Regions from separate parts of the Homo sapiens genome. Here regions 1, 3 and 4 are each linked to region 2. Evidence: fine-mapped expression QTL. A gene starts in region 2. Each other region holds a variant in brackets. All regions are shown on one strand. Distances are from middle to middle.

Evidence for each region.
Region 1: its variant is fine-mapped to the expression of MSANTD3 in whole blood (TOPMed, PIP 0.97).
Region 3: its variant is fine-mapped to the expression of MSANTD3 in whole blood (TOPMed, PIP above 0.99).
Region 4: its variant is fine-mapped to the expression of MSANTD3 in whole blood (INTERVAL, PIP above 0.99).

What each region holds. Positions count from the first base shown.
Region 1 is chr9:100,133,362-100,141,471 of GRCh38, forward strand. The region is part of intron 3 of INVS (inversin); the gene reads left to right. Among named protein-coding and RNA genes, the nearest start is that of INVS, 38 kb to the left of the region's middle. RefSeq lists an enhancer at 6,845-7,418. The variant A/G (reference allele first, on the strand shown) is at 3,230.
Region 2 is chr9:100,423,282-100,431,391 of GRCh38, forward strand. It overlaps MSANTD3 (Myb/SANT DNA binding domain containing 3), which reads left to right and starts at 3,862. Exons shown (of 3, transcript NM_080655.3): 1 at 3,862-4,112. RefSeq lists silencers at 3,699-3,928, 3,969-4,198, 4,239-4,358.
Region 3 is chr9:100,481,242-100,489,351 of GRCh38, forward strand. All of the region lies in intron 1 of MSANTD3-TMEFF1 (MSANTD3-TMEFF1 readthrough), which reads left to right. All of the region lies in intron 1 of TMEFF1 (transmembrane protein with EGF like and two follistatin like domains 1), which reads left to right. Among named protein-coding and RNA genes, the nearest start is that of TMEFF1, 12 kb to the left of the region's middle. The variant A/G (reference allele first, on the strand shown) is at 3,569.
Region 4 is chr9:100,450,146-100,458,255 of GRCh38, forward strand. MSANTD3 (Myb/SANT DNA binding domain containing 3) reads left to right here. Exons shown (of 3, transcript NM_080655.3): 3 at 412-1,589. The coding sequence ends at 821. The region is part of intron 1 of MSANTD3-TMEFF1 (MSANTD3-TMEFF1 readthrough); the gene reads left to right. Among named protein-coding and RNA genes, the nearest start is that of MSANTD3-TMEFF1, 12 kb to the left of the region's middle. RefSeq lists a silencer at 5,462-5,756. The variant T/A (reference allele first, on the strand shown) is at 4,960.

The DNA.
Region 1 (8,110 bases), 290 kb before region 2:
GTACATGTGCACATACACTATTATGGGTAAACCATATTATTTTGCATCTTTAAATTAATGGTATTATACTGTGTGACATTTACCAACTTGCTTTTTCAACTTAATATTATGTATTTGAAACTTCTTCATGTTGAAACATGTAGCCCTATTTCATAAAAGATTATATCCAGATGCCTAAAAGACACATGAGATGGTACACAACATCATTACTAATTAGAAGCAAATTAAAACTCCAATGAGATACTACTACATGACCAGTGGAATGTATAAAGTAAAAAAGTCTGGCAATCAATATTGATTGATGGTGAAGATATGGAGCAACTGGAGCTCCCCAACATTTTTGTTGAGAATGTATATTGGTACATTCACTCTCGCAAACTATCTGACTATATCTGCCAAAGCTACACACACACACACACACACACACACACACACACACACACATACACACATCCCTCATCTCAATTCATGCTCCCAGCCCCGGTAATACCTAAGAAAAATAAGTGCCTCTTTCTACTAGAAGACATGTATGAGAATTACATGATAGTTTTATTTAGAAAAGCAAACATTCCTTTTTTTAACTTCTATTTTTCCATAAGTTATTGGGGGTAAAAGTGGTATTTGGTTACATGAGTAAGTTCTCTAGTGGAGATTTGTGAGAACCTGGTACACCCATCGCCCGAGCAGTATATGCCGCACCATATTTGTTGTCTTTTATCCCTTGCCCCCATTCCACTCTTCCCCCCAAGTCCCCAAAGTCCACTGTATCATTCTTAGGCCTTTGCATCCTCATAGCTTAGCTCCCACATATCAGTGAGAACATATGATGTTTGGTTTTCCATTCCTGAGTTACTTTACTTAGAATAATAGTCTCTAATCTCATCCAGGTCATTGCAAATGCTGTTAATTCATTCCTTTTTAAGGCTGAGTAGTATTCCATTGTGTATATCTATACACCAGAGTTTCTTTATCCACTCGTTGATTGATGGGCATTTGGGTTGGTTCCACAATTTTGCTATTGTGAATTGTGCTGCTATAAACATGTGTGAGCAAGTATCTTTTTCGTATGATGACTTCTTTTCCTCTGGGTAGATACCGAGTAATGGGATTGCTGGATCAAATTGTAGTTCTACTTTTAGTTCCTTAAGGAATCTCCACACTGTTTTCCATAGCGGCTGTACTAGTTTACATTCCCACCAGCAGTGTAGAAGTGTTCCCTGAACGCCCCATCCATGCCAACATCTACTGTTTTTTTATTCTTTGATTATGGCCATTCTTACAGGAGTAAGGTGGTATTGTGTTGTGGTTTTGATTTGCATTTCCCTGATCATTAGTGATGTTGAGCATTTTTTCATGTTTTTTGGTCATTTGTGTAACTTCTTTATAAAAGCAAATATTCTTAATAGTGCAGACAACCCAAATACGTACCAACAGGTGAATGAGTAGCTAAATTGTGATGTATTCCTACAATGGAACACTGCATGAATGAACTGCTGACACGTTCAACCACATAAGTTAATTTCATAGACATTATGTTGAGTGGAACAAGTCAGACACTTATAAAAAATTTATTTGCTGTTCATATCAACCTCAGGAACAAGAAAAACTAATCTATGGTGAGTCAAATCAGATTTGTGGTTACCTAAAAGATGGGTAATATACTGAGAAGAATATGAATAAGCTTTCAGGGGTGCTGAAAATGTTCTGGATCGGTGTGTGTGTTGGTTACATTAAAAGGTACCAGTCTGTATGCTTAAGATTTATGCACTTTACTGTATATGTTATATTCTCAATTTTTAAAGTATTATTTAAAAAATGATAAAATGTTCAGAACTTGGTAGACATTATTTGTAGGGAAGGTAAGGGAGGACGGAACCAAGAATGGTTCCTGACCTAGACTGTTAAGCACTCAGGTCAAATTTCCCCCATCCTTAGCCTCAGGAGCTATATGAAAGCCCTGTGTCTATGCTCTTATCCAGGGGTTCTTAGATGAACATGCAGCAGAATCACTTGGAGAACTTGTTAAAACATAGACGTCTGGGCCCCACCACCAGTGTTTTTAATTCAGCAGGGCTGGTGTGGGGCCAGAGAATGTGCTTATCTAACAAGCTCCCAGGTGATGGTGATGATGTAGGCAACACACTTTGAGAATCACTACTCTATTCTGCTTATACCATTTGTCTTTGCTGCATTTTCAATGCTATTGGCTCCATAACCTCTAGATACCTATCCTGTTTTACTGGGGACTCTTTTGACTGGTATTCCTAGCTCTTGATGACATGACTCATAGAGGTAGGATATACTAGTCCAGGTACAATTTTGAGAGGAAGTTATCGAGTTCAGTTGTGAAAAATGGAATTTTAGGCTTCGGTGATAATGACTAGTATGAATTGTGATAGTTTGCATCTCCAAAGTAAGGTCTTGGCTGGAGTTATTAGTATACATATAGAAACCATAGAAGTAGTTGAAGGGCTCAGGTATGGTTTATAGATGGGAAGAGGACTAGAAATAGAAAACACCAATATTTAAGGTTTATTTACAGAAAATAAACTTACAAAGGAGACAGTACAAGATAGGAGAAGAACTAGATCAGAGTGGTGTTATGGAGCCAGAGGGACAGGTTTCAAGCAGAAGAGGATCCATTTGTTTCATCTTTTTTACTATGATGCTAAGATTTGAATAGTTCCTTTTCCACTAAATGACTCAATAAATGGATGGATATAAATATGATAAGAATTAAAAGGCTTCCACTGGATTTTTCAGTTAGAAAGTGACCTTAGCAAGAGCAATGGTATTTAGTGGACACACAAGCTAGATATATATCACTGTTGAGTAAACAGGAAATGAGGATATGGAGACAGTACGAGTGATTGATTAATGGGGTTATTGATCAGGAAAAGTATGGACGGAAGAAATTGTGGTGGGAAAATTTTTAATAAATAATAATCTCTCCCAGTATAACCGTCACCCACTTTCAATAAATATTAATTCATAAACTTGTTTCTGTAGACTTCAAACTGTTTTATTATATATTCTATTATTTCATCCATAAATATTTCAGTATATTTATAATTCATATATCCCCACGATATCATTGTACCAAAAAGAAATTAGTGATAATTCTGTAATATTATTAAATACCTAATCAGTGTTCAAATTTTCCTGATTATATCTCAAACATTTTTTTACAGTTGATTTATTCAAATCAGGACCTAAACAAGGTCTATAC[A/G]TTGTATTTGGTTGATAAGTCTTTTAAGTCTCTTGTAATCTAATAGATGAGAGATATTTGAACACGTTTAAATGTTAAGGAAAAGGAGACATCAAAAATTTAGGAGAAAGAATGGATTATTGATGGATCAAAGTCGCTGGGGAGATGGGAACAGAAAGGACAGTCGGGTCTGGGCACAGTAGCTCACGCGTGTAATCCCAGTGCTTTGGGAGGCTGAGGTGGGCAGATCACCTGAAGTCAGAAGTTCAAGACCAGCCTGGCCAACATGGTGAAACCCCATCTCTAATAAAAATACAAAAATTAGCCAGGTGTAGTGACACACGCCTGTAATCCCAGCTGTGCGGGAGGCTGAGGCAGGAGAATCACTTGAACTCAGGAAGCAGTGGTTGCAGTGAGCCGTGATCGCGCCACTGTACTCCAGCCTGGTCAGCAGAGGGAGACTCCTTCTCAAAAAAAAAGGACAGACAGTTGGAAAGTTTAGATACACAGTAGGAAAGTTTGTTCAATGAATGAGTATGCTATGAACTTAGAATGTATCTGAATATTCTTGACAATCAATTATAAAATATGAAAACTGGAAGGGCCTTGGAAATTATTCTTATTTTACACATGGGAAAACAAGGAGTTCTAGGTTTTCTTTTGATTAGAGGGAGATGTTTTGTCCCTAAAGCAGGGGAGACTGGATAGGAAAGGAAACCTTAGGAATATAGGGGACCACTGCTGCTCCTCTCACACCTCCCCAGACCCTAACACCCTTGGTTCCATTAAACTCCTAAACTTGGGCTTCAGGAACAGAGGAAGTGAGAAAGCTAGTGTTTAATGATAACTTGTTTTTTCACTGCATAACAAGGACCTTGTTATTTTCTGGTGCTCTGCAGAGTAAATATAGCATAATGAAAAAGAAATGGTATCTGGTATCAGAATTTATAAGATCTATATTCGAGTCATAATTCAAAGACATTTGGTACTCTGTGACCTTGAGCAGGTAGTTTAACTCTCTAAGCCTCTGTAAAATGGAGATAATATTTCTAACATACTTACATCATAAGATTGTAAGTATGAAAATACATTGAAATACTGATTGATGTGTATGCCAAAGACCCTGAAAGGCAGCAAAGTTATACATAGTGTTTACAAATATATATGAGTATGAAACATCTGAAAACCATATAAATAATCTCTTTTGCAAATATAGGTACTTTTTCCAATTGTATTTAAAAGTTGATGTGATTAATTGATGTGATTAAGAAAATGGCATTTCATTTAAAATTGTAGCTGAATTCAATTCTCATATTTTTTCAATGAACCAACAAATACTAAATTTAAACATTAAGGTTCTACTGAATTTTTTGTAGGATTTTTTTGCTGTTTTTTAACTTTAAAAAGAGTTAAACTTTAAAAGACTGAGAGTCAACGTAATAATATATGTGTATAAAGTGCTTTATTTATAAGTAACTTTAATTGAGAATAACAGCAAGTAGGTATAGCCATCTAGTGACTTTAACTTTCTTTTTAAAATATATGTAACTCCTCAGCCAGGCATGGTGGCTCATGTCTGTAATCCCAATACTTTGGGAGGCTGAGGCAGGTGGATCACCTGAGGTGAGGAGTTCGAGACCAGCCTGGCCAATGTGGTGAAACCCCATCTCTACTAAAAATACAAAAATTAGCTGGGCGTGGTGGCACGTGCCTATAATCCCAGCTACTCGGGAGGCTGAGGCAGGAGAATCGCTTGAACCCAGTGGGTAGAAGTTGCAGTGAGCCGAGATCGTGCCATTGCACTCCAGCTAGGGTGACAAGAGCGAAATTCCGTCTCAAAAAAAAATTTTATATATATATATATCCTTATACATTTAACCCTCAGAGCAACATCTTTTTATTCTTTAATTGGAAACATTAGATTTGAGTTGAAGAAACATTATCATATACTTCAACCATTAATGTTTCTGTACCCAGCTTCTACCCTTTCCGGCTCTGTCATTTGCTCAAACAAATCTGTCTTATTTAAATCAAAAGAGTTGCATATAGGCACTTTTGATAAAGAGTCTTTAACCTTGAAATTTTATTGATTTCGACTTTTGTTTTTAAATTATTTTTATTGATGGTTTCCTTTTTTTTTTTTTTTTTTCCTTTCAAGAGAGAGTCTCGCTCTGTCACCCAGGCTGGAGTGCAGCAGCACGATCTCGGCTCACTGCAACGTCTGCCTCCTGGGTTCAAGCGATTCTCCTGCCTCAGTCTCCGAAGTAACAGGGATTACAGGGGCCTGCCACCACGCCTGGATAATTTTTGTATTTTTAGTAGAGATGGGTTTCACCATGTTGGTCAGGCTGGTCTTGAACTCCTGACCTCAAGCAATCCACCTGCCTCAGCCTCCCAAAGTGCTGGGATTACAGGCGTGAGCCACCGCGCCCGGCCTTATTGATGGTTTTCCTTGTCAAAACATTATTTAATCAAAACAGATGAAAGCATGTAGGGAGAGATTTCTTTTACAAACATATTTTGTGCTTCTTTGTTTTATATTATAGGGTACAGAAATGACTTATTTGTTGTTGTTGTTTTCATGATGCACAATGTGACCTAATTTACCTAGGCTTACTCTTTTCTCAGTTCTCGTACTTCTGTGTTTCTCTGATTCATTGATATATTGACCACTTGTTCATTTCAGAATTTTCTCTGGACTTTGATACTGCAGTAACTTATTTTTCTGCTACTCCTTTGATAGTTCATTGTTTTCTTTATTAACTCCTTTCCTTTAACTCCCATTTCTGCCCCAAGATAAAAGTCTTTCTATATATTCTACCTTTCAGAGGTCTCATCTACTTCTATAAGTTTCGGCTATTTTCCCTCAAATATTTGTCTCTAGCCCTAGCCTCTCCCCTTATTCCAGACTTATATTTCCAGCTATCTTCTAGAAATCTCTACCTGGATATCTTCCCAAAATCTCAATTTCAGCATATCTGAAACAAGACCTTACCTTTTAACCTGTAATCAGTCCCGTCATCTGATTTTTAAAAACAATTTATTGAGGTGAAATACACATAGCATAAAATTAACCCTTTTTTTGTGGGGGGAGATAGAGTCTCACTTTGTCACCCAGGCTGGAGTGCAGTGGTGTGATCAGGGCTCACTGCAGCTTCAACCTCCTGGATTCAAGTGATCCTCCTGCCTCAGCCCCCAAGTAGCTGGGACTATAGGCACGTACCACTACGCCCAGCTAATTTTTGTATTTTTTATAGAGACAGGGGTTTCGCCTTATTGCCTGGGCTGGTCTCAAACTCCTGAGCTCAAGCTATCAGCCCGCCTTGGCCCACCAAAATGTTAGGATTACAGGCATGAGCCACCGCACCCAGACAAAATAACCACTTTAAAGTGAGCAATTCAGAGAAATTTTGTACATTCGTTATGTTGTGCAACCACTACCTCTATCTAGTTCCAAAGCATTTCCATCACTCTCAAGTAAAACCACTTATCCATTAAACAGTTTGTCTCCATTGCCCTCTCTCCCTAGCCCCTGGCAACCACCAGTATGCATTCTGTTTCTATGGATTTATAGATATTTCATGTAAAAAGGAATCATATATGACCTTTGTTTCATGCACGTCTGTGTAAAGAGACCACCAAACAGGCTTTGTGTGAGCAACAAGGCTATTTATTTCACCTGGGTGCAGGCGGGCTGAGTCTGAAAAGAGTCAGTGAAGGAAGATGGGGTGGAGCTGTTTTATAAGATTTGGGTAGGTAAAGGAAAATTACAGTCAAAGGGGGGTTGTTCTCTGGCGGGCAGGAGTGGGGGTCACAAGGTGCTCAGTAGGGGAGCTTTTGAGCCAGGATGAGCCAGGAGAAGGAATTTCACAAGATAATGTCATCAGTTAAGGCAAGAATAGGCCATTTTCATTTCTTTTGTGGTGGAATGTCATCAGTTAAGGCAGGAACCGGCCATCTGGATGTGTACGTGTAGGTCACAGGAGATATGATGGCTTAGCTTGGGCTCAGAGGCCTGACATTCCTGTCTTCTTATATTAATAAGAAAAATAAAACAAAATAGTGGTGAAGTGTTGGGACAGCGAAAATTTTGGGGGATGGTACGGAGAGATAATGGGCGATGTTTCTTAGGGCTGCTTCGAGCGGAATTAGGGGCGGTGTGGGAACCTAGAATGGGAGAGATTAAGCTGAAGGAAGATTTTGTGGTAAGGGGTGATATTGTGGGACTGTTAGGAGAAACGTTCGTCATTTAGAATTACTGGTGATGGCCTAGATACGGTTTTGTATGAATTGAAAAACTAAATGGAATAAGAGAAGGAGAAAAACAGGTATTAAAGGACTAAGAATTGGGAGGACCTAGGACATTTAATTAGAGAGTGCCTAAGGAGGTTCAGCATAGTTCTGCCAGCAAAGATTATTTATTTACTTCAAGAGTTAAGAGTGGCAGTTTGGGGATAGCTCCAGGAGATATCAGCTGTGATGGCTTGGAGAAACAGTGTAAACCAGCAGTGTAAACAAGAGCAGGGCATGTGTGAGTAGTTGAGAACAGTGAATAGGAGTATGATTAGACAGAAGATAGTAGGGATGACAAGTTTTTTGGGGCACAGTCCAAGTTGGTCTTGGAATGATACTGGGGCCTAATAAAAAGGAGCATCTATACAGGAGCTTAAATGAGCTGTACCTTGTAACATTCTGAGGACAGGCCTGAATTCTGAGAAGGGAAAGTGGTAAAAGTATTGTCTAGTCCTTTTTAAGTTGGTGGCTGAGCTTGGTGAGGTGTGTTTTTAAAAGACCGTTAGTCCATTCTACCTTTCCTGAAGACTGAGGACCGTAAGGGAAATAAAGGTTTCACTGAATACCAAGAGCCTGAAAAAATGCTTGGCTGATTTGACTAATAAAGGC
Region 2 (8,110 bases):
CGCCTATAATCCCAGCTACTCTGGAGGCTGAGGCAGGAGAATCGCTTGAAACCAGGAGGCGGAGGTTGCAGTGAGCTGAGATCATGCCACTGCACTCCAGCCTGGGCGACAGAGCAAGATCCGTCTCGAGAAAAAAAAAAAAAGAAAGAAAAGAAAAGAAAATTTTGTTGAAACCAGGCTGGGTGCAGTGGCTCATGCCTGTAATTTCAGCACTTTGAAAGCCTGAGGTAGGAGGATTGCTTGAAGCTTAGAAGTTCAAGACCAGCCTGGACAACAAAGAAAAACCCCCTTTCTACAAAAATAAAAATTTAAAAAATGAGTTGGGCATGGTGGTATGCTCCTGTAGTGTCAGCTACTAGGGAGGCTGAGGTGGGAGGATCGCTTGAGCCCAGGAATTTGAGGCTGCAGTGAGCTATGATCATAACCTGCACTCTGGCCTGGGTGACAGAGCAAGACCCTGTCTCTAAAAGGAATAAAAAAGGAAAAAAAAAAAAGATGTCGTTGAAATCAACTACTATATCAAGACTGCTTGGTGAGCCTGGATCCTAGCAAAAAAGATACAATATGTATAGCTATTCTCAGCAACCTGTGGAGCGCAATGCATCACTCATCTCCATCACAGGAATGGATCTCCTGAAGGGACCCTCCAGCATTTGAAAAAGGGACAAGTCACATGGATGAGTTCTTTATGGTTTTCTTTTCCTAGACTCTGTGTAGACGCTGCCCTTCTGTTAACACTTTCTACAAAGAAACTGTAATAGCTTTATTATTGATAAAATAGCTCACATTTATTGAGTGTTTTCTCTGTGTTTTCAAGAAACCTATTTAATTTGATGTAAGTGATCCAAAGTAAAAAAAAAAAAAAAAAAAAGAAAAAGAAGTCAGTTGTCCAAGGTAGCATGCAGAACTAAGTCAGGGATCAAGGAGAGAGCTGGGAAGGCAGCCACCATATTGCAGGCCTGAGTAGTTACCCTGCCCCATTAGTTTTTAAGATAGTCTGCTCTCTTTGTTTGAGGAGAGACACATGACTAAATTTGAGTTTCCCATGTCTCCTTAGCAGTACACCTACATGTGGCTCATGTCAATCACCATTATTTATTTATTTATTACAGCATTAATTTTTTTATTTTTAAAATTTTATCTGTTTATTTATTTTGAGACCAGGTTATGAGACTGGCTAATTTTTGTATTTTTGGTAGAGATGGGGTTTTGCCACGTTGCCCAGGCTGGTCTTGAACTCCTGGGCTCAAGCGATCCACATGCTCCAGCCTCCCAAAGTGCTGGGATTACAGGCATGAGCCACAATCTTCATTATTTAAATCAATAAAATAACACTGATCATTTGCTGAAGTTAAGACTAGAAGCTTTTATCTACCCAGCCAGGTAGGCATCATATTCCCATCTTAGAAATGAGAAAACTGGCCGGGCATGGTGGCTCATGCCTGTAATCCCAGCACTTTGGGAGGCAGAGGCGGGCGGATCACGAGGTCAGGAGATCGAGACCATACTGGCTAACATGGTGAAACCCCGTCTCTACTAAAAATACAAAAAAAATTAGCCAGGCGTGGTGGCAGGCGCCTGTAGTCCCAGCTACTCGGGAGGCTGAGGCAGGAGAATGGCGTGAACCCGGGAGGTGGAGCTTGCAGTGAGCCGAGATTGCGCCACCACTGCACTCCAGCCTGGGTGACAAAGCGAGACTCCGTCTCAAAAAAAAAAAAAAAAATGAAATGAGAAAACTGAGATTCAGGAGCTTAACTTAGTTCACGTTTATCTAGTGCTTTTTCCACACTGTATCACTTTATCAATCAAATTTCCAATCTGAATTGACCTTCCAATGTCACACCCCAATAGTTTTCCCTTGACCGTATCTGCATGTAAGAAGGGAATCTTCATGGACTTATAATATGGCACTAAGTGGAAAACAAGTGTAAATGATGTACAGCCTTGGCTTTCGGTGTGGTATCATAGCTTGTTTGCTAGCACATTGTAGCAACTCCCCTGGTATAATTTTAGTTTCCAGGCTCTCTGGACAATTTCAAGGCCTCCTGGACATCAGACAAATTATTGTTAAAATAATGAATGAGATGCCTGTAATCCCAGCACTTTGGGAGACTGAGGTGGGCAGATCACTTGAGGTCAGGAGTTCGAGACCAGCCTGGCCAACATGGCGAAATCCTGTCTCTACTAAAATTACAAAAATTATCCAGGAGTGGTGGCACATGCCTATAGTCCCAGCTACTTGGGAGGCTGAGGCAGGAGAATTGCTTGAACCCGGGAAGCGGAGGTTGCAGTGAGCCAAGATTGCACCATTGCACTCCAGCAGACTCTGTCTCAAAAAAAAAAAAAAAAAAAGAAAAGAAAAAGAATGAGGACCAGTATAGCTCTTAGTTTAGGGTCTTTATTTTTATTGGTGCTTCTGCCCTGGATTGTTTTTTGAGGGAAGAAAGAAAGGGTTGCGTGATTCTTTGTACATAGTGAAAACCTAGATCAGTTTTTACTTTAGGGCTATGGATAGTGGGAGTTGGGAGGGCAAGCAATAGTCTCAAAAATGTTCAAGGAATTAAAACACAAAAACGGAAAATTGCAAGTGTTGACAAGGTTGTGGAAACTTGGAACCCTCAAACATTGGTGATGGGAATGTAAAATGATTCATTCAGCTGCTGTGGAAAACTTTTTGGCAGTTCCTGGAAAAGTTAAACATAGAATTACCCTATGACCCAGAAAGTCCACTCCTAGGTATGTATCCAAAAGAACTGGGAACAGGTACTCAAATATGTGTACAGGCATGTTCAGAGCAGCACTATTCACAATAGCCAAAAGGTGGAAGTAACCCAAATATCTATCAAGGGATGAATGAATAAACAAATTATAATATACACATACAATGGGATATTAATCAGCCATAAAAAGGAATGAAGTACTGATCCACGCCTCAACATGGATGAATCTTAAATACAGGCTAAGTCAAAGAAACGACACAAAAGGCCGCATATTGTATGGTTGCATTTATATGAAATACCCAGAAAAAAGTAAACTCACAGAGATAGAAAATAGCTGAGTCGTTGCCAGGGTCTGGAGGAAGGAGGGACTGGGGAATTACTGCTTAATGGAGTATGGATGTTTCAGAACTAGATAGAAGTGGTTGCTCAACATTATGAATGTAATAAATGCCACCAAATCGTTCGCTTTTAAGTGGTTTATGTTATGCGAATTTCACCTCAAAAAAAAAAAAAGTTAAAAAGCCTTCTCTGCCTTTCTCTGGGGTTGGAGTCTTCCCAATGGATCCAGGGCAAAAGAAACATCCAGCCACTCTGTTTGCGGGAGGAGCAAAGGGTGGCTTGTCCCGACAGTTTGAGCTGTTGTGCATGCATTTACACACGCATTAATTCCAAATGAGTCAGCACAGTGTCCGAGACAGGTCCTGGGCTCCAGTGAGCACAGTCGCTCTCCTGGGGGAGGCACGTTCCACAAATTAACAGAAGTTCTGATAAACTCAGCATAGGGGGATTCGCTGTCCCAAGTATCAAGGAGTCCTAAAAGAAAAGGGCCTATTTCAGTCGGGGGACCTGGACTGAACTAACTCGTGTTCATGGCCGCCAAATCCCGTGTGACAAATGTATTCTTTTGTTGTTCATAGAAATAAAACAGTTTTTCGGGCCGCTTCAGGAGCTCCTCTGCAAAGGTGGGGAAAAAAGGCAACTAAATCAGCACGAGGACGTCAGCCCGAGGATGTCAGGAGCGGGGTCGGTGCGGACGGGCAGGTGGGCGGGGGGGCACCCCGCGCCCCGCCCCAGTCCCCTGGAGGCCGGCGGCCGCAGCTCGGGGAAGTGGGGACTGGCGCGGGGCCGCGCTCCCGCCCTCCTCGGCGGCGCCGACGGACCGGCAGGCGGCGGGCGGTCCGCGAGGGGGCGGCGGCGTCCGGGCTTTGTGGCCGCGGCGCGCGCGGCGGGGCCTGGCCGGCCGGGGGCGCGCCGCCGCCGCCGCCGCCGCCCGGCGTTCGGGAGCCCGCGGCCCTCCCGGCCGCCCTGCTTGCGAGAGGAGCCCAGGCCGCCCGCCCTCGCGCCTCGCCGGCCCCTCCCCCGGTCGCCGCGGCTGCCGCGCCGCCGCTGCAGGTAGGAGGCTCCCCTTCCGGGCGGGCCGCAGCCGGGCGGGGGCGGGGGTGGGGGGCGCGGGCCGGGCGTAGAGGGGGCCGGGGGCCGGCATGGAGGGTTTTCGGGCCGAGCCGCTGCGACCCCGGCCTTGCAGGCTGGGCGCCGGGCGGCCGCCTCTGCGCGCCGCGATGGGACTCGGTGAGTAGGGCCGGCCTGCTGCCTACAAAGCCCCGGGGCGCGGGCCTCTGGGGTACTCAGTGGCGCGCCCACGGCTGGGAGCGGGGTGGGCTTTGGACTCCCGGGCTCGGGGAGCTGCTCGGGGGGAATCCAGGTGACCTGCAGTACCGCGGTCTTCCCATCCCGGCGTCCCCACTGTGTGCTGATCACTGTGCTCGGCGCTTTTCCATACTTGTCTCCTTTAAGACCTCCAGTGCCCCGCCCGTCCAGAGTGTAACGGGAGGGATCCCTCACTTGCAGGATGAAGGCCGAGCATCACATCCTTGCTTGACTGACCTTGGGAAAGCTCCTTTACTCCGAGCCGGGGCTACTGTTTCTGTAAATTAGAGGCGGGGGTCGGGGGGGCGTGGTATAATATCTACCCTCAGGTACTATTGTGAAAGATAATGTATGTAAATGATAACAGCTAAATTTTGAGCACTCTGTATGTACCAGGCCCTAGGTACTAAACAGTTGGCATGAATTATCATTGAATCATCACCCTGGCGCTGTGAGGTAGTTACTGTAAATTGCATGAATAATCTTTATTTAGGAGTACGAAACAGTGAAGAATTTAGTCTCCCTATTCCGATTCAGGAGGTTGGGTATTTCTTAGGCGTGATAACATTTAACATTACAGACGTTCCTGCAGTATCGAGGAGAGTAGTTATAGGATGCAGGGATATATTTGTCATACATTTAAAACTGGAGGTAGGATAATATCAGGGCCAGAGAGTGTGCCTTTCAGCATGTCAGAGCAGATGATTGTATTCCAAGGAAATTGCTGAATATTAATTAAAAAACATAGTTTCTGAGTTAGGATTGAGGATGGCTGTGGGAGTCCAGGGCCAGAGAGAGACATGGGATGGACAAGGGGGAGAAGAAGGATTCTGAAGTCCTGGAGGAAGATGTAGAGGAAGGCACCAGGGTTCACCATCCCTCCCCTGCAGCATTGCTGGGCCAGATTTCATCCCTCCCGTAGAGACCCGGGCTAGGGGACAAAGGCTGCTGGGGCAGGGGGTGGGGAGGGATGTTATAGGTTGTCTCTTTTTACTCCCAGGCCGCCAAAAATATTCAGATTGATGGAGGGTCAGGTGATTGGGCCTCCTAAAATGCCATTATCCCTTCTCACAAAATTCTTGTGTTTCAGGGCATGGGGATGCTTGCCAGCCCTAATGGTTGATGAGATGCTTAAAATACAAAGGTCTCACTGATATAATGGAAGAGTGCATTTTCAACACCATTCACTGGGTTAGAGAAGTAATGGGCCTGAGGAGATTATTTTGGGTTTAGAATGGGGAGAACTAAAAAGGCTTTGGATCCTGAAGAAGGAAGAGAGGCAGGAAGGGCCCAGGCACTGCACCTGTGGGGAAAGGCAGGAGAAGAAGGAGCTGAGGACTTCACCCCACCATCTGCAGAATACCCAACAGGCTGTTCAGTTCTCAGCTACCAAGGGGGCACCCTTTCCTCTCCCAGTTGGTGATGATTTGTTAACGTATTGTGGAAGATCAAGGGCTGGACTCAGGCACTCCTGTCCTGAGTGAGTAGGAAAGACGTCTGGGAGAAGGGTGGTTTATTTTGTTTTTAACCAGGCATTGAAGCAGAGAGTAGGTGGGTACGTAGCGATGGTGAAGGTAGGGAACATCATGCATACTTGGAAGAGCAATTGCTTTGGAGAGATAGACAGTTTGGGGTTTGAATCCTAGCTCTGCCATTTCTTAGCTTTGTACATTTTTTGTGAGGATAAAATAATGTTTTTTCACATATCTGGCGTGCAGTTCAACAAGCACTAGTACCGTATTCCCTGTCCGTGATAACATTCATTCAACAAATGTCTGCTGAGCACCAGTCATGTGCTGAGTCATATGTTACATCCTGGGGATACAGCGATGAGTCAGAAATTATGTATTCCCCTAGGAATTTCCCAGTCCAGTGTGGGAGATGGACGCAAAGAGCAAATTGCAAAAAATATGGGAAGTGCTACAGTACAGTCATGTACAACTGTCAGTGAGCTCATAGAAGAGTAACTCATTCTGAGCCAGTGGGAACTCAGGGCCAATCTATATCTAACAAGGTGAGTATGAGACCTTATGACACAGGTTTTTGTTTTTTGTTTTTGTTTTTTTTTTGGGGGGGGACAGTCTCGCTCTGTTGCCCAGGCTGGAGTGCAGTGGCATGATCTCGGCTCACTGCAGTCTCCACCTCTTGGGTTCAAGCGATTCTCTTGTCTCAGCCTCCCAAGTAGCTGAGATTACAGGCACCTACCACCACGCCCAGCTAATTTTTGTAGTTTTAGTAGAGGTGGGGTTTCACCATGTTGGCCAGGCTGGTCTCAAACTCCTGACCTCAGGTGATCTGCCCACCTTGGCCTCCCAAGGTATTGGGATTATAGGCGTGAGCCACCGTGCCCAGCTATGACACAGGTTTTGAATGCTCCTTTACCACCTAACTTTGATCTCTTTTACCTTTGTCTTATCTTTGCCCTGCTAGTCTCTCCTCTCTCTCTCAAAAAAAAAAAAAAAAAAATCTAGTTGCAGTGTGTGTGTAATTTGTAAGCTGCTTCAAACCCATTTTAGAAGGAAGCCGTTATAAAGAAAATAAACATAACAGACTGGGTATTAATTGAGGAAGGCTTAACAAAAATTGCATGAGAGTTGGGCTTTGAAGATTGAAAATGGGCCGGGCGCGGTGGCTCACGCTTGTAATGCCAGCACTTTGGGAGTGAGACTCTGTGTCAAAAAAAAAAAAAAAAAAGAGAGATTGAAAATGGGCCCTTGGTGGCCTTGGGGTAAAGGATTCCAGCCAAAGGAAGCCGCGTGTTGAGTTTGGTCTGGTTAGGTTGAAAATACATGGAGAGAATGAGGGGCTGGTGGGGGTGCTATAATCAGGACCAGATCCGGAAAGGCCATGAATGCCATGTGAAGAGTTGGGACTTTTATCGTTTAGGCAGTGGGAGAGACGTCTGAGGTTTACAAGGAGGCCTGTGGCTTGATCACTGTGTTTTAGGAAGATCCCTGTAGTTGTGTGGAAGAGGGTATGGAAGTTTGGGAGACCATTTTAGAGATTAGCTCTGTCCACAGACATGGGCAGTGAGAATGGGAGAGGAGGGAACAGATGTTTGGGTAAAATGTACCATAGGTCTTGTTAATTAGTTGCATGTGATTGAAGATTACATTTCTGCTTTGGGAAGCCAAGTTGATGTGGCTGACATCATCAGAAATCAGGAGATTTTGGTGTATGGGGAATAATTAGTTTGGTTTTGGCTATGGAGAGTTGGAGTTTTCTGAGGTACCCATAGTGGGGCACAGAGGTGGCTGATAGATAATTGGAAATGTGTTTGATGCTAAGGAGAGAGGTTGAGGCTTGGAAGAGAGGTTCTTCCATCACTGCCACTTTATTCTTTTTCTTTTTTTCTTTTTTTTTTTGTTTTTGAGATGGAGTTTTGCTCTTGTTGCCCAGGCTGGAGTGCAACGGCGCAATCTCGGCTCACCGCAACTTCCACCTCCCGGGTTCAAGCAATTCTCCTGCCTCAGCCTCCTGAATAGCTGGGATTACAGGCATGCACCATGATACCTGGCTAATTTTGTATTTTTAGTAGAGACGGGGTTTTTCCATGTTGGTCAGGCTGGTCTCGAACTCCCGACCTCAGGTGCTCCTCCCACCTCGGCCTCCCAAAGTGCTGGGATTACAGGCGTGAGCCACCATGCCTAGCCTTTTTTTTTTTTTTTTTTTAAAGAGACAGCGTTTTACTCTTTCACCTAGGTTGGAGTGCAGTGGTGCAATCATTGTTCACTGCAACCTCA
Region 3 (8,110 bases), 58 kb after region 2:
TCTCTGTATGTAGCTCTATGAAGGCAGAGATTTTTATCTGTTTCGTTTACCACTGTATTGACAGTGCCCAGATTGGTGTCTGGTACGAAGTTAGGTTCCCATTACATATTTATTTGTGGAATAGATTAATGGCTGAATGAACATAGAAGCTGAACATAGATGAATGAACATAGAATACCTCTTAGGAAGGGTATTCTAGGCTGAAGGAATAGCTTTAGGAAAGGCACAAAGGTGGAAAAGAGAAGGGAGTCTTTTCGAAATACTAAATTGCGGGGATTAAGGCAGGAGATTATGCCACCACATTAAGGTCTTCAAGGCCCATCTGAAGTTTTGGCATTTGGTTCAAAGACATCAAGAAGCTTTTAAAGGGTTTGAGTGACATTATGGTTTTAGAAAACAAAGTCTGAAATTGGTGAAGATGGAATGGAGAAGGGAAGAGCCTGGCGGTACGATGAAAGATAATGGTAGAAATGGGAAGAATTGAGAGGACTTGTTTAGCCTGCACAGGTTTTTTGTTTATTTATTTATTTATTTTTATTTTTAATTGTTGTTGTTTTTTGAGACGGAGTCTAGCTCTGTCACCGGGCTGGAGTGCAGTGGCATGATCTCAGCTCAGTGCAACCTCCGCCTCCCAGGTTCAAGCGATTCTCCTGCCTTAGCCTCCTGAGTTGCTGGTACTGCAGGCGCATACCACTACGCCCAGCTAATTTTTGTATTTTTAGTAAAGACGGGGTTTCACCGTGTTGGCTAGGATGGTCTCGGTCTCCTTGTGATGTGCCTGCCTTGGCCTCCCAAAGTGCTGGAATTACAGGCGTGAGCCACTGCGCCCAGCCTAGCCTGCACAGTTTTTTAAAAAAGTTACATTGGTTGTTAGCCATTAAAAATCTGGAGGTTTCACTTGGCAATCTATTTTTCTGCCGACTCTTCTTCTTCTTCTTTTCTTTTCTTTCTTTCTTTCTTTTCTTTTTTTTTTGGAGACAGTATCTTGCTCTGTTGCCCAGGCTGGAGTGCAGCGGCTTGATCTTTGCTCACTGCAACCTCCACCTCCCAGGTTCAAGCGATTCTCCTGCCTCAACCTCCAGAGTAGCTGGGATTACAGGTGCACGCCACCACGCCTGGCTAATTTTTGAATTTTTAGTAGAGACGGGTTTTCACCATATTGGCCAGGCTGGTCTTGAACTCCTGACCTCAAGTAATCTGCCCGCCTCGGCCTCCCAAAGTGCTGGGATTACAGGCGTGAGCCACCACTCTGGCCTGCATTCTCTTCTAAACTTGGAGGTACTGTCAGCATTGGGCTTTTATTTCCACATTGCAAAAATCAGTCAGTGCTGTCTAGTGAGGCATGAGCTCTTTACTTTGCCCAGTCCTCAACCAGCCAGCCTCTTTTATTGATCTTTTTCTGCCTAAACTTCTGGATCTTCTGCTAGAGATGGTGGGGTGAGTTGTGATGCTCTTAATTTGAGATGGAGAGCCTGTTTGGAGGAGAGTCAAATTGGTGTACATTCCCTCATTCCTGTTATTCACAATTATATGTTTGGATGGGAGACCTTATTTCTCCAGTGCCTAGGTGTTTTGGTCTGAACTCCTCTCCTGCCTGTACTCCTTGTAACTTCCACTGTATTGTTCTTCTTTTTAACTCTTTCCTTGAATCCACTTCCTCCTTTGTATTTGAAACCTACCCTGCTATCTCTGATTATACCATTGTCCTTGAATCACTCTCTGATGTTTTTATGTCTATTTTTTTTTCTTAATTTTATCCCTTAAACTTTCCCTTTTGTCTCTTTCTAAATTCTTTAGGTGGATATAGATCATTATGTTTCTTTAACTCCATTGTCATTTATGATAAAATTTCTCTCATTGTTGTGAAACACATGAATTTATATATGTTACAGATGGGTTTTTTCATGATTTTGCGTTATGGTCTAAGAATGTGTCATATGGAATCTCTGGGTTTTCATATTAAAACTAGGTGCGTCCAGGCACAGTGGCTCATGCCTGTGATCCCAGCACTTTGGGAGCCCGAGGCGGGTGGATCACCTGAGGTCAGGAGTTGGAGACCAGCCTGGCCAACATGATGAAAACTCGTCTCTATTAAAAATACAAAAATTAGCCGGGCATGGTGGCGCATGCCTGTAATCCCAGCTACTCAGGAGTTTGAGGCAGGAGAATCGCTTGAACCTGGGAGGTGGAGGTTGCAGTGAGCCGAGATCGCACCGTTGCACTCCAGCCTGGGCAACAAGAGAGAAACAACATCTCAAAAAACAAACAAACAAACAAACAAACAAACAAGGTGTGTCATTGTATTCTAGTATGAAAACAAATTTTGTGAAAGATTCTTCTATCCAGAAGAGTTATTTCCTTGACTTCTCAGTCTCCATGTTATATTAACTATTATTTTTACTTAAGTTTACTTTATTTTCATGTAATTTCAAACTTAGAAAAATGTTGTAATAGTACACCCAGATTCCCCAATTAAGATTTTACCACATTTGCTTTAAGTCTCTCTTTGTGTATCTACTCTTTCTCTCTCTATCGTCTGTCTGTCTGTTTTTTTTTTCCCCTGAACTTGGCTCTGTCAAGTTGGCCCCTACCAAAGGGAGAGGGTTAATTTATGTTTTAGTTCCATACTTTAAATTTTTTGTTTTGTCATCTCCTCTTAATTAAATAGTTAAACTTCCACTTATAATGATAGGTTTATTTTTCACAGTTTTTCAGTTTTTCTTATATTTTTGTTATTCTATGTAGGACATATACATTGAACATTATTTTGTATCATAATTTGTTGTACTTTTTACCTTTGTATAGAGTAGATTTCAAGTATCTCTTGAAGTTATCATAGGACCCAACCTTTTCTGAATTTGTGTTTATATTTTAGTTTTTAGGTGTTGGGATTTGTCTCCCAATAGAGTTATAGATCATTCTGCTTTCAGTGGCATTCAACTCATTTACATTAAATTAAGTAATTGATATCTGTGCTACCCTCCATCATCATCTTTTTTCTAAATTGCACAATCCAGTGTTTTCGACTATAGTCACAAGGTTGTGGAACATTTTCATCTCCTCCAAAAGGAACTTTACATTTTTTTTTTTTTTTGAGATGGAGTCTCTCTCTGTTGCCCAGGCTGGAGTGCAATGGTGCGATCTTGGCTCACCGCAACCTCTGCCTCCTGGGTTCAAGCGATTCTCCCTGCCTCAGACTCTCGAATAGCTGGGATTATAAGCGCCCGCCACCATGCCTGGCTAATTTTTTTGTTTTTAGTAGAGGCGGGGTTTTACTGTGTTGTCCAGGCTGGTCTTGAACTCCTGACCTCAGGTGATCCGCCTGCCTTGGCCTCCCAAAGTGTTGGGATTACAGGTGTGAGCCGCCGCGCCTGGCCAAGGAACTTTACATTCTTTAGCAGTCACTCCCCAATCCCCACCTCTCCTCATCCAGCCCTAGGCAACCACTGACGTACTTTTTTTTTTTTTTTTTGAAACAGTCTCTATCCTCCAGGCTAGAGGACAGTGGTGTGATCTTGGCGCCCTGCAACCTCCGCCTCCCCGGTTCAAGAGATTCTCATACCTCGGC[A/G]TGAGATTCAGGTGCCTGTCACTGCGCCTGGCTAATTTTGTATTTTTAGTAGAGACGGAGTTTCACTGCGTTGGCCAGGCTGGTCTCAAACTCCTGACCTCAAGTGATCTGCCTGCCTCGGCCTCCTAAAATGTTGGGATTACAGGCATGAGCTACCAACCCTGGCCATGATTTACTATCTTTTGCTGTAGATTTGTCTATTCTGGACATTTCATATAAATGGAATCATACAATATGACCTTTTATAATTGGCTTCTTTCTCTTAGCATGATGTTTTTAAGGTTAATCCATGTTGTAGGATGTATCAGAATTTCATTCCTTTTTTTTGACTGAATAATATTTCATTGTCTCGATAATACCACATTTTGTTTATCCATTCAGTATCCATTCATCTGTTGATAGACATTTTTTTGTTTTTACTTTTTGACTATTATGAATAATGCCACCATGGATATTCATGTACAAGTTTTTGTGTAAATACATTGTTTCATATCTCTTGGGTGTATGTATTCCACCTAGGAGTGGAATTCCTGGGTCACGTGGTGACTCCATGTTTAACATTTTGAAGATTTGCCAAACTGCTGTCCATGTAAAACTCTATGTTTAACATTTGAGGATTTGCCAAACTATTGTAAATGGTTGCAGCATTTCACATTTTCATCAGCTATGTGTGAACATTCCATTTTCCACATCCTCACCAACCTTTGTTATTGTCTTCTTTGTTATAACCAACCATCTTCATTTAAGTTCCTATTTGTTATCCTTCATTTTCCCTATATATGTGGTTTCTTTAATGGAATTTAAATTCTCAATTTCTTTTAAGCTGGATTGGGAGATAACTTCAACCTATTTATCCCCCTTCATTTTTTACATTGTTAGAAACATTGTCTTAACTTAACTATTTTCTTTATTCATATAATTCTATTATTAGCTTCTTGAGCATTTAGGGGCTTGGCATACTTCTCATGTACTTGGAAATTCTATACTTAAATCTGAAAATTCTCTCCGTATATGCTTTTAGTTTATTAGGTAACTTAATTTATTGTAATTCCTTTGCTACTATTCAAATTCATCTATTTTTTAAAAAGTATCATGTATTTTCCATGGCTCAGCAGCCTTGTCATTTTTTCAGAAGTCATTTAAGGTTCTAAAGTTCTTAACGTATTCTTGTACCTTTAAAAACTTTGGCAGGTTATTATATTTTCAACCACAGCTCAATTTCTCTCTCTCTTTTTTTTTTTTTGCAAATATTCTGAGTCTGTCTTTTCCATGGATTAAAAAAGGGAAAAAACCCACACCTTTTTTCTTTGTTATAAGAGCAGTATATAATCTGTGTAGAAAATTTGAGGAATATGGAAAAATATGAAGAGGAAATCTGGGATAATTGCCATTCTCTTCTTTAATCTCAGTGTTTATGCTAAATTATTTCATTTTTCATCAGAAAATTTTTGAACTTGAGTTTTGCTCTTTTTGCCCAGGCTGGAGTGCAATGACGTGATCTCGGCTTACTGCAACCTCTGCATCCCAGGTTCAAGTAATTCTCCTGCTTCAGCCTCCTGAGTAGCTGGGATTACCGGCGCGTGCCACCATGCCCAGCTAATTTTGTATTTTTAGTAAAGATGGGGTTTCACCATATTGGCCAGGCTGGTCTTGAACCCCTGACCTCAGATAATTGGTCCGCCTCGGGCTCCCAACGTGTTGGGATTACAGGCGTGAGCCACAGCACCCGGCCTGAACTTTTAAAAAAATATTCATGTTGTTTTGCTTTGCATTTTCTGTTTATGCTGGAGCCACTGTTGTTCAGAGGTCAGATCTCCTTCTGGGATGTTTTATTTTTATTTTTTGAGACAATGTCTCCCTCTGTTGTCAAAGCTGGAGTGCAGTGGCATGATGGCTTACTGCAGCCTTGACCTTCCAGGCTCAATTGATCCTCCTACCTCAGCCTCCTGAGTAGCTGAGACCACAGACGTGTGCCACCATATCCAGCTAATTTTTAAAAATTATCTTTTGTAGTTACGGAGTCTCTCTATGTTGCCCAGGCTGGTCTCGAACTCCTGGGCTCAAGTGATACTCCCGCCTCAGCCTCTCAAAGTACAAGCATGAACCACTGTGCCTGGCTAGGAATTTTTAAGTTCAGTTTATTTTTGCCTTGTCAGCTTTCATTTAATATTGTTTTGCACGTGAAACTAAACTGCTGATGTTGCTGTATCAATTCTGTTGTTTATAGCCCAGTTGATATATTTAGATTCTTTATTGTTCACAAGTCAGCTCAATCTTTTAGTGTCCTGTATTCATTTTCTATAGCTTTTTTTCTTCTTTCTCTTTATTTTATTTTTTAAAAAATTTTTAATTTTTATTTATTAGTATTTTTTGAGGCAGGGTCTCACTCTGTCAGCCAGGTTGGAGTACAGTATCACTATCTTGGCTCACTGCAACCTCTACCTCCTGGGTTCAAGCAATTCTTGTGCCTCAGCCACCTGAGTAGCTGGAATTACAGCTGCCCACCACCATACCTGGCTAATTTTCTTCTGTATTTTTAGTACAGATGGGGTTTCACCATGTTTGCTAGGCTGGTCTCGAATCCCTGGCCTCAGGTGATCTGCCTGCCTTGGTTTCCCAAAGTGCTGGGATTACAGGCTTAAGCCACTGCGCCCAGCCTCCTTCTCTCTCTAAAGTGGTTTGAGGTGTTTTCTAGGTGGTACACTTGTGTTTACCATTGTTTACTTCAAGGTTATACCATAAGCACATCCTAATTCCCATTTATTTAGACCTAGTTTTAAAAAAATTATTCAATGTTTTACAACAAAATTTGTCGGGGTTTCTGGTTATGGTAGTGTCTTTTTAAGTTTGTTTTTGGTGGTTTCAGCCAGAGTAACAGTCAGTTTTCTTCATAGTTTGCAGTGTTCTTTTATAAGGATCTCTTATAACCATTGGAATCCTATAAGGGATTATTATACTCCTTTTTTTTTTTTTAAATTCTAGGAAACTGGGATTCTCAGATTTAGCACTTGGTCAAGATCATATAGTTACTTTTACTTAATCAAATAATTGGAACCCCAAGTCTGGAACTCTTTCTAATGCACCAGAATTTTGTGAAGTCTTTAAAAAATTATCTTTTAAAATCATTAATACCAGGTTTTTCAGTGCCAGTATGCAAGTTGCTGTGTAGATTTTCATCTTTGTGGGTGATTTCCCTGGGTTCTGGCTACCTCCTATTCTACTTAGTGTTGCAGACACTAAGGGATAGTGGTTAGAAATAGAACCAGAGGACATTGTTCTTGTGTTTAGATTAATTATTGATTTAAAAAACAGTTTAATGAAGGAAATGTATTGAGTATACCTGCAAAATCTTATATATGTAAACCGGCATATGTTTCAAAATAATGGGATTATAACTGTATGTATAGTTTTACAATGTGTTTTTTTTCACAATAGGTCTTAGTTGTCTTTTCATATCACTACATGTGTTTCTACCAAAGTCTGTGTAGTATTATGTCAATAATTTAATTCCCAAAAGATAGACATTTAGATTGTTTTCTACTTTGGTTTTACAGAAAGTGCTGACGTTAACAATCTTGGACATAGGTTTTTGTATGTTTTTCTTTTATATCTGTTATAGTTTCCTGGAAATGTTGGGTAAAAGGATAAAGACAATTAAAATGGCAATGCATATGGACACATGAGAGGTTGTGCCACTATGTACTTCCACAGTTGGTTTGAGTGCTCATTTTTCTATACTTTCTCCAGAACTGGTGCTAATAAAAAACAATAGTAGCTTACACTTAATAGAGTACTTATTATGTGTATTATTATTTTGCTCTAAGTGCTTTCCATATCTTTAATCCTCCGTCAGAATTTTGAGATAGGTGCTGTTATTGTCCCCATTTTGTAGATGAAGAAATGGAGGCATAGGTGGTAAATTACTAAGCTCACACAGCTGTGATAAGTGGTAGAGCCGGGATGCTGGACAAGGTGGTCTGATGCCAGGGTGTCCCTCTTAAAAAACATATTATAATGCCTGTTTTTAATTTTTTTATTTCAATTTTTCCAAAATTTAAGCAGCATGATTTATATGATTTAAAAATTATTTCTATTTTTTATTGAGATAATTTTCATAATGTAAAATTCAGCATGTTAAAGTATACAATTCAGTGGTTTTCGTACATTTACTATATTGTGCAGTGATCATCACTATCTACCATCTAATTATAGAACATTTCTATCACCCCAGAAAGTTTCTACCTGTTAACAGTCAGTCCCACTACTCCACACCCCCATCCCCTGGTAACCACATAGAGACTTTCTCTGTGGATTTATTTATTTTGGATATTTCATATAAATGGAATAATACAATGTGTAGCCTTTTGTGCCTGAGTTATTTCTTTTAACATAATATTTTCTTTTCCTTTTTCTTTTTTTTGGAGATAAGATCTCTGTTCCCAGGCTGGAGTGTGGTGGTGCAATCATGGCTCACTGCAGCCTTGACCTCCGGCTCGTGATTCTCCTATGTCAGTCCCCCAGTAGCTGAGACTACAGGCATGT
Region 4 (8,110 bases), 27 kb after region 2:
TTGGCAAAGCATGATCAGACTGATAGAGAACTTAATTTGAAGATCCACACTGGCCTTGCATTGTGGTCCTACGCTCATCAGAGTTGGGCATATTTCAGTTTAGAATATCAACATAAAAAGGTCTCTGATTCTTGATAAAAATGGTTTCTGACCACGGATCCCATACTTTGAAGTTCTAGAAATAACCTAACAAAACCCCTTATCATTATTTCTTAAGAAAAAATTGCTTTTGATTTGTGGGTTTTTAAAAAGTCAGGTGTGGCTAGGGTCCCTGTAGACATGAAGACCAAAGCAGACATGATTTTAGATACATCCTGTAATGAAGGACCCTGTCATTTGAAATAGGATTGGTTTTTTTTTTTCTCTGCCTGTAAAATCTTTGAACATATGTTTTCTGCTACTGTTTTTCAGAATCATTTGCTGTTTCAAATAGAGAACTGTGCGATGATGAGAAAGAGTTCATACATTTTCCAGTATGTGAGGGGACCTCTCAACCTGAACCCTCGTGTTCAGCTGTCAGAATAACAGCCAATAAAAACTACAGGAGCAAAACCTCTCAGGAAGGTGCTTTAAAAAAGATGCATGAGGAAGAACACCATCAACAAATGTCCATCTTACAACTGCAACTGATACAAATGAATGAGGTGCATGTGGCCAAAATCCAGCAGATAGAGCGAGAGTGTGAGATGGCAGAGGAGGAACACAGGATAAAAATGGAAGTTCTCAATAAAAAGAAGATGTATTGGGAAAGAAAACTACAAACTTTTACCAAGGAATGGCCTGTTTCCTCATTTAACCGGCCCTTTCCCAATTCGCCCTAAGACTTTGGGGGTGGCTCTCTTGTAATTAATCTGTGTTGGCAAAGAATGTCTGGAACATGGACTTGGCGGTCAGTAACCTGTAACAGAGCTACAACTAGGAAAATTAGAGTGGTAGTAGTCACTTATTTAAGAATTCATTCAGGTAAACAGCTGCACCCTCTGTACCCCTTAAGTGGCAAAGAAGCTGTTATAGTCTTCTGAAAATTATCACTATGAGTGCTATAATTCTGAATATAATGTCTCTTAATTAGAATTCATACAAGAACCACGTGTGAGTGTTGTTGTTGTTGTTTTTTTTTTTAATCAAATGCAAGTGTGACTATAAAGGAGTGTGGCTGATTTTTTTTTTTTTCTTTTTTCTTTTTAAACAGACAGCAGAACTTTTCTATCCAAATGAATGCCGTCCCATGGAAAGTGGCTGTCCTGGGAGGCTACACGTTTCTCCAATGGTGATGCTGTTGCTCAGAACTTGCTAGAGGTCTTTAGGGAACCTCCGTGAGAGCTGCAGCACCTTTTTAATTTTCTCGGTGTCATCCTCTGAGTATGGATTTTCTGTTTTTAAACAGCCCAAAGTTTAGAAGGGTATTTTCTAATGTGGCTCATAAACCACCTTTTAAGGCCTTTCCTCAAACAGGAGTTCTAAATAAGTCTCCAACAATAGTAGTTTTGTTGGAGCTAAGGATGTAACTACTTTGAGGAAGAAATGTTCGTTTAGATTTCTACATTCTGTTATGTTGGTTTTATTAAAAAAAAAAAAAAGACTTGCAATTTTATAGTCACACTGTGTATGTTTTTTAAAGGTGCTGCCTTCCCAGCTGTGCTCCAGTTTTTCTCTTCTCTCTCTAGTTTCCTCCCAGCTTTGTACTACTGAGTTGATAGTTGCCCTTGCTTTTAGTCTTTAGCTACCAAAGGAAAGGCCCTTCCCTCACCATGCTCATGGTGCTAGCCAGTAGTAATGCTTTGTAGCTGGCATTACATAATTAGCATTGGGCCTTTTGAGGATCCATTACCAACATATTCGGAAATATGGATTGATAAATGGATATTTTGACTGAGCTGCAGTATAGCTTCTCCTGTAGCCTCTTGTTAAAAACAGCCCCGGGTGTTGGGGACAGCAGTAGCTGGAAGCAGCAAAGTGACACTTAAGTGCCAAGGCAGATCAGCAGTTTCTGACAGTGAGAGTTCAAGGCCATGTGGTGGGGAAGGAGGAGTATATGTGGCAGAGTCCACATAAGTGGTATAGGCCTTGGAGTCAGGGCCTGAATTCTAAGCTCAACTCTCCGTCAAGTTGCCGTATGAATGTGGGTAACTCCTTTTAACCCTTGGTGTAGTGTTTCCTGTCCACAGAACAAGGGAGTTGGGCTAGATGACGTTCCAAGTCTGTTACAACTTCTTGGCTATGGTGTGGTCTGTATAGTCTTTTTTTTTTTTTTTTGAGACGGAGTATCACTCTGTCGCCTAGGCTGGAGTACAGTGGCACCATCTTGGCTCACTGCAAGCTCCACCTCCCAGGTTCACGCCATTCTCCTGCCTCAGCCTCCCGAGTAGCTGGGACTACAGGCGCCCACCACCACGCCTGGCTAATTTTTTCTATTTTTTAGGAGAGACAGGGTTTCACCGTGTTAGCCAGGATGGTCACGATCTCCTGACCTCGTGATCCACCTGCCTCGGCCTCCCAAAGTGCTGGATTACAGGCATGAGCCACCGCGCCCGGCTGGTCTGTATAGCCTTGGATGAGTACTGCCCACATCATAATCAGCTGGAGAGCATGGGTCAATAGGGAGAAATTGTTTACTGCAATGGCTAACCTTCCCTCCTGCATAATTTTGGAATTTGGGGACTGGGGACCATAAGTTTGGTAAGGTACACATATACTTGCTATTTATGCACAGCACACAAAACGGGTATGAATTTATTTTAAACACCGAATTATATTTTCAATGTCTTAGAGGAACTGGTTATTTGAAGAAAGCCTGTGAAGACTAGTCTTCTTTGAAAGAAAAGATCCTTTTGTAAGGATTTATGTTCTTAATTTAGTTTTTACCAAATGGACCCTTTTAGAGAAAGAAGCATCAGGATAAAGTCCCAATCTTCAGTGGTTTGTGGAAGAGAGAATCTGATGATTCATGCCCTCCTACCCTGTTAGAATTAGGACAGGGAATGGCAGACCCTAAACATACATGTGAACTGAGCAAAGATTGCCTTTGCTTCACCTATTGACACATTTAAGAACCTCGTTTTATAGAGAGTACGGAGTGGGGTCTGAGATTCTACATTTCTTACAAGTTCCTGGTTTATGCCAGTTCTGTTTGTCTGGTCACCACACTTCTGAATAGCAAGGTTTCAGAGGACTCTATGAAGTTTTTATTTCTCAAAAATTTGGCTTAGGTACATCTTTACATACAGTGGTGCTAGATATTATTCTTTCAGAACTTAACCATGCAACAATGCAGAAGAATACAAAAAATGCTTGCACACAGTAGTGTATTTTAATGGAACTATAAAAGCATTGAACTGATTCCTAACTTTACATATAAAGGATAATTAAACCAGCAGCCTAAAGCACCTTGCTCTACTGTTAATGGTACTTATGAGTTTATAACAGTAGCTTCCAACCTTGGCTATGCATTAGAAACAGCATTTTATAAATGATTAGTCCCACTGCGTCCCATTTCCACAGGATTCTGATTCAATTTACCTGGGCTGGGGCCTTGTCCTCTATATTTTTCAGAAGCTTTACAGGGGATTATGATGCATAATTGGGATTGAGAATCACTGATGTAGCATTCACAACTGTGTCTCATTTTATTCTTAATCCCATGAGGCCATGCAGAAGGAAGGAAATGATGCTCAAAGAAGAACCACCTGGTGTCAAGCAGATAGCTAGCGAATGGCAAAGCAGAACCTCAATCCCAGATTTCTTGACTCCAAAATATGTAGTCCAAACTGCCTGCCCTTGTCCCATTCCTTGAGCTCTATCATGAATTGGTTTTATCCTGAGAGTCAGATCACATTACAGGGTACTTGTTTCAGTGTCTCCATTTGTGAGCAAGTATATCACAATTCATTTCACTTTTGAGCAGTTTCTTACCCGAGGTAGAAATGCAATAACCATTTCTTGGTAGGTGGTGTAGGGGATAGACAGGTAAATATTAAGACACAGTTCATCATCCCCCACCTTGGCAAATTACGGACACAGCCCAGTAGGGAGTATAAGGGTTGTACACAGCTATCATGCGCTTGATCAGTGCATGTCTTCAAAGTGCACTTGTACCTCAGCAGAGAGCTAAGAAGCATGAAGGAAGTCTTCATGGAGGAGATGGCACTGGAGCTAAGTCTTCAGAGTCGGCATTTTGGCAGGTGGAGATTGGGAAACCAGAGGAACTTCACTAGATGCAAGGTCCTGTTGAAGATTCAAGGTAATGAGACACATAATTGAGAGGGAGTGACAGCATGGGGAATTTCTGAGTTTGGGCAGTAATGTGATCAGAACTGTACTCCAGGAAGAAGAGTAGAAGAAAGAACTGAGTGGAGAGAAGACTGGAGTAGGGGATACGTAGGAGGGTTTGTCCCTGGTTAGGATGAGATGATAGCAGGACCCAGAAGAGGTTGCAGTAAAACCAAGAGAGACAGCCGGGTGCGGTGGCTCACGCCTGTAATCCCAGCACATTGGGAGGCCAAGGCGGGTGGATCACCTGAGGTCAGGAGTTCGCGAGCAGCCTGGCCAACATGGTGAAACCCCGTCTATACTAAAAATACAAAAAGATAGCCAGACGTGGTGGCAGGCGCCTGTAATCCTAGCTACTTGGGAGGCTGAGGCAAGAGAATTGCTTGAACCCAGGAGGTGGACGTTGTAGTGAGCCAAGATCACACCATTGCACTCCAGCCTGGGTAACAAGAGTGAAACTCCGTCTCCAAACAAACAAACAAACAAACAAACCCACGAGGGAGATCAGTGTGAAGGGCATTGCCAAAGTGGAATCAGTAAGGCTTGGCAGTTGACCTTGTTTGTTGGAGAGAAGGGATAAGATTTTAAAGCTACATGTCTGAAAGAATGATGCTGCTGATTGAAATAAAGGAAGAAAGGATGCATTTCGGGCTCCAACCTGTCCTAGGAAGGCCTAGACCTCAAACACCA[T/A]CACCTCCATGCATTTCCTCTTTGGCTACTATGTCTTTTCCCTGACTTCTGCCTCTCCAGCTCTCTGGGCTGCTGCTTCCACCTGTTCATCTGACTTAGACCCTCCCTGCTGGGTCCTTGTTCACCTACTCATTTGGTGCTTCGTCTGCCATCAGTACCTCCATTGCAGCTGGTGGGATGTCAGTCACCATCTCTTATATTTGCTTCCCACTAGAAAGATCAAGAGAAGTTATTTCTTTCCCTTGCGCTCCAATTTTTCTCTAGACAGTTGGTATCCACAATTTTAAAAAATGTTCCATGTTGTATAAACAAGCATTCGCTGAGAGGGGCTGTTAATACACATCGTGCCCCTTTTATAAAAATTCATGCATGGAATCCTACATTATTATGCATCAAAATCTCCAGAAATGTCTTAGGATTTTTGCAGGGAGAATATTAAATGCATTGTTTTGCTTTGTTTTGAAGAGACTAGATGTGCAGAGGAAGAGAGGTGGCATGGTGGGAGGGTACATTTGAGTTGTCAACAGTCTCTGCAGTGTCAGGTCAATTACATCAGCACTTGGACTGGACCAGGGAAAGGAATGATTCTGCTTCCTGGGAATGTCAGAAGGACCTGATGATTATATTTGGCAAAGCCAGGAGGAGTGGCTTTGAATGTCATTGCTAAGAATTACACTTTGAGTAGCATTTCTGGATGTCTGAGCTTTTCAAATGATACTTCTTTTCTGCTGTGGCTTTCCTTTCTGTTGGACTGGTTCCCAGAGGGTCCTCTTGTTTGTCCTTGCCCTCGCTTTTATATCAGTTCATGTTTTCTCTTCTGTCATCTTCCTTCCCAGCGCTGTTTCTCCACCCCCTCCTGCTGCACTCACAACAGCTTCCCCTCTCCTGTTTAGAGGTGGAAGCATGTAAGAATGCGTTTGAGGGGGATGCTTGCCAAAGGACAGCATATTCAACATCTGGTATCAACAAGGTAATGTTTAACCTTAGACTAGCCAAACTAGTGATGACCTGCTTCCATGCTGCATCTGCTGCTTTTTGTGTTGATGGGACTCAGAAATCATGAGAAAGGTCTTCAGTGATCCATGACTGCAACAAATTCTTTTCCTAATTGTGCCGTATATTATGCCCCTCAATACAACTTACTAATCTCTGCCTCAGTTTCTCCATCTGTGAAAGTGGTGTAATACTTATCTACCTCCCTTGAATGTTGTGAAGATTAGTATATGTTGGTAAAGCACTTTTAAAATAAAGAATGATATAAAGCATTGAATTGTTGTGTTTGGGATGTGGGTGCCCTCCTGTAGAGAGGCTGCCCTGTAGGGGAAGTATCCCAGGTGTACCATGGTTTAGGAACACCCAGTGTACAAAACTTCCATTACAAATACAAGAGTGTGATTGTTTCCTTTCTTTCTTTTTTAACTTCATCTCAGGCTCTACTTTCAGATTATTTTCTTTATGAAAAATTTCAACATGGCATTTCTTTAAATAGGCTTTTGGTGCATTTAATATGAGATTCAATTTATAGAAGTGATTTATGGAAGATTTAAAAGAACACATCTATTGAACCTCTATTACCCAATATAACTGTTGGGTTTGCAAGCTGATTATTAATCTAACAGTGAAGTTTATCATCATTAGGTGGAAAACTTGGTTTCTGCATTATCCAGATGTCCAGATTGTATATGAAAGTTCTCTCACTGTAAGTACTGATTGGAATGGACAGAATGTGATCTTGTTACTTCCGAATGAGAGGATCTGCAGTTCCACTTCTAAAATGCCCTTACAGCACAGCCAGTTTTGGGGGAAAAGACTAACCATGCATGCTCACTAAAGGGCTGACAGTCAGTCCATGAGATAGGGAAATGGAATATGGGTTCTCTTTCTTAGCTCCTGGTGACTGCTAAGAGATTTAAGTTGGCTCTGGTCTGTTTTCTTTTCTATGGGTTTTTTGGGGGGAAAATTCAAAATGCTGTTAAGAGATTTTTTTTTTTCTGGCTGGGTGCAGTGGCTCACACCTGTAATCCCAGCACTTTGGGAGGCTGAGGCGGGTGGATGTAATCCCAGCACTTTGGGAGGCTGAGGCGCGTGGATCACGAGGTCAGGAGTTGGAGACCAGCCTGGCCAACATAGTGAAACCCTGTCTCTACTAAAAATACAAAAATTAGCCAAGTATGGTGGCGCATGCCTGTAATCCCAGCTACTCAGGAGCCTGAGGAAGGAGAATCGCTTGAACCCGGGAGGCGGAGGTTGCAGTGAGCGGAGGTTGCAGTGAGCATAGATCACACCATTGCACTCCAGCCTGGGTAACAAGAGTGAGACACTGTCTCAAAAAAAAAAATTTGTTTTTTTTAAATCTAAAGACTACTTGCTATGGGGGAAATACTCTAAGTAGCAGTGGAAGGTAAGGCTCTAGTTCTTTTTCTGTCCCATCATCTGGTTCAGCTTCCAGCATAACCAAAAAGGAAATTCAGAGGCTGGTGCTGTGCATATAGATTTAGATTCTTAACTATGAGTCTCCAAAGAGTTTCTTGGAAGGGGCTGGTTGGTCTTCAACATTCTGTGGGACTGGAGGCAGTTGCCCCAGTCACTCAGGCATTGAGAAATCTGGGGTATGGCTGGGGCAAATGTCTCATGTGGTCACCTTTATTTCCAGGCTGAAGGGGCAGGAGCTATCCAGGGAACCTCTTCTCAGGACAGAAGTACAAAAGGGCAAGCGCAACTGTAGAAGAATATTTTATGATTCAGTGTTATATCTGCTAACATCTCCTTGGCCAAAGCATGAAGCTCTAAGTCAGGAGGAGGGAAGTAGACTCCTCCTAAGAAGGTGAGGAGAGGAGGAACAATAATCTAATCTACCACAGAATCACAAGTGGGAAGAAAACTAGGGGGATACCAAGGAGTTGAGATTATATTATAAATCAAGGAATGGGGAACCCAGGGAACAAATGCGTCCTCATTCCTCATTTTCTACTAAGACACTTCTTCATTACTGCTTTCCTTCCTCTAAATTTGTTTTTCATTTAGTGGGGGAGGCTTTAAAATGGTGATAATAATAGAAAACCCTTCATAGGGTTGTTGGATTAAATGAGTGACATATGTATTCAGAATACTGCCTGGCATATAATAAACATTATATATTTTAGCCATTATT